2 separate regions of the Homo sapiens genome follow, and region 2 is linked to region 1. Evidence: fine-mapped expression QTL. Tissue or cell type: whole blood. Region 1 holds a variant in brackets; the other region holds the start of a gene. All regions are shown on one strand. Distances are from middle to middle.

What was found. PIP is the estimated chance that this variant, and not a neighbour inherited with it, causes the effect.
Region 2: it holds the start of PAX8, and the variant in region 1 is fine-mapped to the expression of PAX8 in whole blood (INTERVAL, PIP 0.98).

What each region holds. Positions count from the first base shown.
Region 1 is chr2:113,232,277-113,236,448 of GRCh38, forward strand. It overlaps PAX8 (paired box 8), which reads right to left. Exons shown (of 12, transcript NM_003466.4): 9 at 3,118-3,306. PAX8-AS1 (PAX8 antisense RNA 1) reads left to right here and starts at 3,993. Exons shown (of 6, transcript NR_015377.2): 1 at 3,993-4,172. RefSeq lists an enhancer at 2,890-3,079 and a silencer at 3,330-3,409. The variant A/G (reference allele first, on the strand shown) is at 2,117.
Region 2 is chr2:113,276,419-113,280,590 of GRCh38, forward strand. PAX8 (paired box 8) reads right to left here and starts at 2,503. Exons shown (of 12, transcript NM_003466.4): 1 at 2,413-2,503; 2 at 1,952-2,051. The coding sequence starts at 1,976. RefSeq lists a promoter at 1,976-3,105.

The DNA of each region.
Region 1 (4,172 bases):
CTGAGCTGCTTTCTGACTTGCTTCCTACTCTTGGCCATTTGCCTGGACCCCAGATCCTCCAAGGCTAGCACTCCTCACTCTTTTCAGAGCCTCTGCCTCTGTGCTGAATTGTCAACCCTTGGGCTAGGGGGCCCTGTGACCAGCCAGCAACCTTCAAAGTGCTCACACCTGCACTTCAGCATCATCTGGGCCTGGATTGGGGGCCACCAGCCTGAAAGATATGCCGGTGCTGCATATTTGGCTGCCTGCTTCCTACATGACTACCTGGTGTCTGCTGCCAGCTGTTTTGTCCCATGGGTTGGGTGACCTCTCAGTCCTGCAGTTGGCCTGGAGAGTGGGCATGTCCACTAAATTAACAGCTGACAGTAGTTGGAGGCGTCACCTCTGATTGACTGCATGTTGACAGGGGATGCTAACAGGATGACAGGGAGGGGACAAAGTGTAGGGGCTTTGGGAGTAGGGAGTTTGCCCTGGGCTGTTCCAGTTGCACTTTACACTACAGCCTATGTCTGCACTCTGATACATCTATCCACTTCCAGCTGCCCTACATCCTTCCCTCTCCTTCAGCTGGTCTTGCCAAGCTTCTCCGCGGCTTCCACAGCACCTGCTCCCCATCATCATGGGCACCACCACACCCTCACCCCTTGCCTGCCCCATGACCGCCGCCAGCTCTAGCCTGCCATTCTCAGAAGACATGCAGGCTTGCGTAACTCCCTGTAACTGACATGAACCTCTTCTCCTCACCCCCTCCCCTCCCCTCCCCTCCCCTCCCTTCCCTTCCCCTCCCTTCCTCTCCACTATCCTCTCATTCCCCTCCCTACCCCGCATCCCATTTTCTCTGGCTGACATAATTTTACTCAGCTCACAGGTTTTGCTCTTTTCATCACTTTGGTCAAAACAAATGACCCATCTCTGCTGCCTTCACCCTCTTGAATTCTTGAACTCCAAGTCAACTCCTCGCTTTAGACCCTTAAACACCATCTCTCTGCCCACACACTGGATGTCCCTCTCTTCTAAGGAAACTTCTCACATTAGGTGCTGGGATGTACGGAGGAAAAAAAAAAAAAAACCCGGGTGCCAGCCAGAAAGAAAATGTAGAGCCAGTTATAAAAAAGGGTCCATGGGCTGGGTGCAGTGGCTCACACCTGTAACCCCAGCACTTTGGGAGGCCAAGGTGGGCGGACCAAGGTCAGGAGATTGAGACCATTCTGGCTAACATGGTGAAACCCCATCTCTACTGAAAATACAAAAATTAGCCGGGTGTAGTGGCGCCCATTTGTAGTTCTAGCTACTCGGGAGGCTGAGGCAGGAGAATCACTTGAACCCAGGAGGTGGAGGTTGCAGTGAGCTGAGATCGCGCCACTGCACTCCAACCTGGGCAACAGAGTGAGATTCCATCTCAAAAAACAAAAAAACAAAAAAAAAAGGGTCCAGGGACTTTTATCACATGACCCTGTGGTTACTCTGGGCTTGTAGAGGTCTTAATCCTCTGGTGCAGTGGTTTCGAAGTCCAAGGGCTTTCTAGGGGCAGGGACCCCTTCTAAAAGAGCAGTTCTTCAGGGGTCTGGTGAGCATACATGTCTTCTGTAAAAGGCTTCATTTCAAGAGAGCATTGAGAGGCCCAAATTTGAAACCACTGGTCCAGATGGACTGTCTGACTCTGGGCTGCCTCTGTGACAGGTCTCACACACCCCACCCACGCACTGGTCTCTGCTCCAGCATTTCAAGGTCGTCGGGGTAGGAGGGTGTGGGAGGTGAAGAGGCATTTACTTCTGTCACTAAATACCCACACTCCTTGGAGACAGTGCCGCTATTAAAGAGATTCCTCCAATGCTGAACTGAGAGCTAGCTGGCTTCCTTCCCTGGTCCTGGGCCCCCACTGGGCCCACATCTAAAATAGTCCTATCCCTGTGGAAGCCCTTGAGGTATCTGAAGACCATATGGGTCTCTGCTTCCCACTTTCACTGCATCTCAGGCCCTCTCCAACCCAAGCCAAGCGCTTGACTCTCAGCCATTCCTCAGGCCCTGGCTGGATGAGCGAAGGTCCTTCTGCCAGGAGGAGCCAGCTCCCCTTGAGGTCTGACTCATGCAGTGCAGGCCCAGGCCTCAACCAGCT[A/G]CAGATGGTGCTCCTGCCCAGAGACCTTGGCAGGGACCTTCTCCTCCCTGGGCCAGGTTCCTCATCAGCATAAGAGGTTTGATCTAGAGGCTCCCTCAGGTGCTTCCAGATTTACTTATTTTTATTTATTTGTTTTTTTCTTTTTTGAGATGGAGTCTTGCTCTGTCACCCAGGCTGGAGTGCCATGGCGCCACCTCAGCTCACTGCAACCTATGCCTCCTGGGTTCAAGCGATTCTCCTGCCTCGGCCTCCCCAGTAGCTGGGATTACAGGTGTCTGCCACCACACCCCCTAATTTTTTGAATTTTAGTAGAGATGGGGTTTCATCATCTTGGCCAGGCTGGTCTTGAACTCTTGACCTTGTGATCCACCTGCCTCGGCCTCCCAAACTGCTGGAATTACAGGGGTGAGCCACCTCGCCCGGTCGGTGCTTCCAGCTTTAAATATTTTGAGGCAGTTGAGGTTCCTGATGGGAGGTCCCCCACTCCTCTCAAGTTGTTGAATCACTGAATTTATCATGTTTAACAGATGTCTGACTGTCCTCCCGGTGATGCTGTTAAGCTAGGAATGAAGATAGCTGCATCATGGAAACACAACTGGGACTGACCCTTGGCCTTTTTAGAAATTTGATCCAGAAATGGGCTCCAAAAGCCAATTCCTTTTTCCCTCCAAAATGTTCATTTTTCCTTCTATCTATTTATGCATTTACCAAGGCCAAGTTGCTACGTTACAGCACCCGGCTCCCGGCCTTAGGGTTCCTGCTTTTCCATGGGGTCTTGGGGTGGTGCATCCCCGGCACCCCTACAGCATCCGCCCCTTCCGAGCATGTCTTCCCCGTCACAGAGAACTTCATGTTGGCGCCTCCAAAAGTTGCCGGAGGAATTAGGGAACAGGGTGGGGGTGGATGAGACTGAGGCCAGAGAGGGGGCTGGCGGTCTGCCCTGAGGACCCCCGTCCCACCCGCCGCCATAGCTGCATGGCCCCGGGACCTCCCTGTCGTACCTGAGAGGAGGGCCTGGCCCGTGAACTGCCCGTACACGGAGGCAGCATGGGGAAAGGCATTGAAGGGCGGGACCCCGGAGCCGACTTGCTGCAGATCCAAAAAGGCGGAGCTAGATAAAGAGGAAGGGGTGGAGCTAGAACTGGACACCTCGGGGGTTTCCTGCTTTATGGCGAAGGGTGAGTGAGGATCTGCCGGAGGGAGGGAGACAACAAGGAGAGAGGGGTGTGAGATGGCGGGGAGGGAACACGCACAAGCCAAGCCGTGGGATGTGGAGGGTGCGGGCGGGGCGCGGGGCAGGCTCAGCTGCCCTCAGAGTCTGGGCTGGGGAGAGCCGGGGCCCACGAGGCGTGGCAAGGCGGGGAGAGAGAAGCTAGACCTCCCTGCTGCGCTTCTGCAGCGAAAATGGAGAGACCCGGAAGGCGTGTGTGCGCCCGCCTCTCCCACAGGAGGGAGCGCGGAGACCCGGGAGCGGCCTAGGACCGGAGGCGCGACCCCTCGGCCCACCTTGAGGCCCGGCCTAGGACCGGAGGCGCGACCCCTGGGCCCACCTTGAGGCCCGGCCTAGGACTGGAGGCGCGACCCCTCGGCCCACCTTGCGGGAGCCGCCTAGGACCGGAGGCGCGACCCCTCGGCCCAGCTTGAGGCCCGGCCTAGGACCGGAGGCGCGACCCCTCGGCCCACCTTGCGGGAGCCGCCTAGGACCGGAGGCGCGACCCCTCGGCCCACCTTGAGGCCCGGCCTAGGACCGGAGGCGCGACCCCTGGGCCCACCTTGAGGCCCGGCCTAGGACTGGAGGCGCGACCCCTCGGCCCACCTTACGGGAGCCGCCTAGGGCCGGAGGCGCGACCCCTCGGCCCAGCTTGAGGCCCGGCCTAGGACCGGAGGCGCGACCCCTCGGCCCACCTTGAGGCCCGGCCTAGGACTGGAGGCGCGACCCCTCGGCCCACCTTGAGGCCCGGCCTAGGACCGGAGGCGCGACCCCTGGGCCCACCTTGAGGCCCGGCCTAGGACTGGAGGCGCGACCCCTCGGCCCACCTTGAGGCCCGGCCTAGGA
Region 2 (4,172 bases), 44 kb after region 1:
CTCTGTCTTCCCGAAAAGAAGAAAGGGGAAAAAAATTACCTGGTAGGTCCAGGGGCAGAGGGCTCCCTCCCAAAACCCAAGCGCGATTTGCATCCAAGCTAGTGGGAAAGCGCGCATCTCATCATCTGGGACTGTTCCTGATTAAAACTACAGTAAAAATAAATTGTGCCTTTATTTATTCTTTCCATACTCTATTTCCATCTATTCTAACGAGTACTTCTAGAATGAAAATAAGTAGCCGCGAAAAAAAAAAAAAGCTCATCTGAGGGACGGGGACATCGTCTCATTTCTTGGGCAGCGGCAGAGAGTAAGGGTCCAGCCCGGCCACAGTGAATTTGATTTCCGAGAGCACTCACTCCTCCTGCCACCGCCGGAAGGGTCAGGGGAAGGTTAGGAGGAAAGATGGACCTCCAGAGCCGAGCAGAAGTGCCATTGCACCAGCTTGGCGCAGAAGTGCCATTGCACCAGCTTGGCATGGGCACCGGGCACTGCACATTAGGCCTCAGGGATGGTCCTGGCGATGTCTGGTATCGTACCACGGTTTGGCTAAAGATTAAGGGACTAAAACCTGATCCTGACCTTAGATAGTGGCCTAGGAGCGCTCGTGGTTCCAGGACGCGGACCGTAAAGAGGTGCCAGGGAGCTCTGCTCGGTCCCAGGGCTCCCCAACCCCGCCGCGCCGGGGAATGGCTGCGAGGTCTCTCCCCTGAGGACCTTGAAGGGACCCCGCGCCTTCTGGGGGCAGCCGGACGATTCTGGCCCAGGTCTCTGAGGGGAATGGGGGCCGGGAGGGAGCATTCGTCTGCAGCTCTAGAGAGAACCCGAGTGAGAAATCTTCCGGCGCCCCAGGGGGTTCCCGCTCCCCTCCTAGTTGGGCCATGGCCCTGGGACTGGAGACTGCGCCGCAGAGCCCGGGCCCCCGCAGTGCGCTTGGCTAAATAGAGATCTCAGCCTCGCTGCGCGCCCGATCCGACCCTCCTTATTATAACAAATGTCCCGTTTGCAGAGCGGGACATCATATTCGCGGAGAATTCATTCTGAAATATTGATTTCCTCTCACTTCGCCGGCCCAAATCGATAGCGATGCGCCCTGGCCCCATAAATCGCCTTCTCTGCGGCCGGCCGGGCTCCATCCATCACTGCGGGCCGCGCTGCGCCTCCACCGCTGTCCGCACTCGCTGCGCGCCGGGACGGCTGCGCCCACCAGCCCTGACCCTGGAGCTCCTTCCCAGCAAAGACCCTGCCCAGCCCTGGCCGGGAAGGGGGAAAACAGGCATCGCGGCCTGGGAGCTCGAGTGTGTTTGAAGGCCCTGCTTCCGGGCGCAGGTGGGGAGGGGGTTTTGACTCCGCGAGCGGCTTAGTCCTCACCAGCCGGACGCCCCGCGCGCGGCGCCCGGCCTGCCCGGTGCTGGGCCAGGAGGAGTCGGAGAGCACCTGAGTGCGCTGCCGGCTCCCGGGCCCGGGACCACCGGCTCCATTGCCGTTGGCTTGAGAGATGCGGGGAGCTCACAGTCCAGCCAGGGGAGTCACTGGGAAGGACTGCGCGCACCCGAGGAAGAGGACTTAGAGGTCGGGGACGGGGAAACGGCAAGTCCAGCACCGGTGCAGCCCAGGGACAGAGCACGAAGAATGTCCACACTAATGCGCCATGCAAGGCTGGGAATGGAGCTCAAAGGAAACCCCCTCTAACTCCACAGAGATCCCCTCACCGATCCATGTGGTCCCTCGAAACCGGGCAAGGGCGGCTCAGCTGGCCGGGTGGAACCCCAGTGCCCGAGAACAGCGAGGCGGCTCCAGCGGAGGGCCAGGCCCCAGGCGCCCCAGCTGGGTCCCCACGCGGGTGGGTCCCGCGAATCCCGTGCTGACGCTCTCGAGATCCAACCACCCGAGCGCACGCACGGACGCTCAGCGGCGCGGGGGCTCGGGGATCCTGACCACACCGCGTTCTTACCAGATCTGATGGAGTTGTGAGGCATCGCCGGGGAGTCGCTCGCAGCCCGCCGAGGGCTCGGGGCTTCCTCCCGTAGGTCCGGGCCGCGCCTGCCGCTGCCCTGCACAAACCCAGGAGAAGGGCATGAGATGCGATGAGATTCGATGCCTGCATCCTCAGGCCCCCTCCCCAGGCCTCATCCTTTACACCTGCATCGTCTGCCAGGAGTAGGAGGATTTTTAGGCGAAGTAGGGCCAACCTCAGCCTAGCCTAGCTAACAGGCTTCCCGGGAGGATCAAGGATTGGGAGTGCGCTGAAGAAGCTCCAGACTCCAACCTCCGTGCCCACTCCCTCCGCTGTCCCAGTCTTATCCCGTTTAACTTGGGAGGGAAAAGGCTGCCAGGCATCCTGGGACCCTCTCCTTTCTTCCATCCCCCGTCCTCACTGCTAGCCAGCTTCCAGCTAACCCCTGGGTGACATACCTGGCCGGCCGGCTGCAGGCCCTCACTGCTTGGGTCCGCCCGCGAGGGTGCCCTGGGCCCGGTGTCTCTCCTCCTTCTGAAGTTTGTTCCCATCCACCCGGCATCACCGACCGGTTTTATCCCGCTGAGGCCCTGGGAGATGGGTCTGGCGAGGCTCGTAGGCCGCGGATTGGCTGGCTGGGTGCAGGGGGGTGCGGGAAGGGGAGGATTTTGCAAGGGGGACATGGCTGAGTGGACTCAGGAGTTAGAAACATTCGCTGGGAGCTTCTGTTTCCAGCGGAGGGAAGAGGGAGGCAGCTGAGCCCTAACTCAGCAGGCCTGGAAATATTGGAGGAGTGGGGAACAGAGGCCTAGGAGCCTGAGGATGAGGTTCTCTGGGTCCTCCTGGGTCACTGACCACCAGAAGTGAGAGGGATGGTCTCTGTAGGATGCCCTCCTTGCCCCCTGTCTCCCCTGGTTTGCTCACCAGGAAGCAGCCTTTTCTTTTGTAAAAGGAAGGAGGGAACTTCTGTTTTATGCCTGATTCTTTAGGTAGAGCCTGCTTTCGGGGCTGTAGGCAAGATGCTATTACCTTCTCACCACAGCTATGACCTCTTCCAGGGAAGAATCCTGAGCAGCACCTGAAGCCATTCCCTCTGTTCTACACAGATAGCGTTCACACCCTTGCATTGTCAGGCTAACAAAATTGTCACATAACCCATTCCACAGCAACTCCTCGCCTCTCTCCTCTGGAACACACACGCAGCCACCTGCCCTCTTTCTTGCTCCTTGAGGATTTTGAACTTGGAAGAAGAGTTCAGGGGAAGGGCATTGAGGGCCTAGACTTCATCTCTGTGTGGAAAGGCCTTAGAAAGGAACAGGACTGAGCTGACCTCTGGCCTGGTCTGTAGGAATCAATAGCCTCAGCAATATGGGGGCCTGGGTGTGGTTAAGAAGGGGTCCACTGGTGGGAATGATGGCAGGGTTGGTGAGCCCTGGGACCGAGCAGAGCTGCCTGGCACCTCTTTACCTTAGTGATGGCAAAAGCTGCCCCCTCCTTCCTCATAGTTCTCTCAGTCGGGGAACCGGGGTACACGTAAGATTGTGAGTGGGTATGAGTGAGCAAATGTCCTGGAACACTGGCAGGCCTGGGGGTCAAGGCCTGGATGCTCCTCCAATCTTTGGCCAGACCTCTGGACTCAGGATTACAGTCTAGAGGACAGCCATGCCCTTTTCAGTGATGGCTCTGCAGGCCTGGTGGGGTTGTTCTGGGACAGGAGGCTAAGAAGCCAGTGGGAGGGGGGCAAGGAAGGTGCAGGGGAAACTGGGATATTCAGGGGGATTGGATGTGTGTGTGTGTGTGTGTGTGTGTGTGTGTATGCACATATGTACACGTGTGTGAAAACACATGAACTATTTTTCTGAATTAAAAAAGTTTTCTCTTTCATGTCAATCCACAACCTCCTTCCACCCAGTCTTTCTCATTTCTCAATTTAGGAGAAATGAATCATCTTGTGAAAAAAGAGAGAAGAAGATGTGTATCCCTACATGTTTCCTCCACATTTGCAAAGAGGGGCTGTAAACAAAAATAGTTGGTGCTTCATCATTTTAAATCTTTCTCTAAAATTGTAATTTTAAATATCTCTGTGGTTTTCAAAGCTCCAGATCCCTAACTTCTCTGGCAGTCCCTCCCAGAGAGAGACAATCCAAGGGTGTTGGGATGGAAATGGATCTTGGCATAGGTCCTCCGGACCCCATGGGCCAGTTTGCTGCCCTGGATT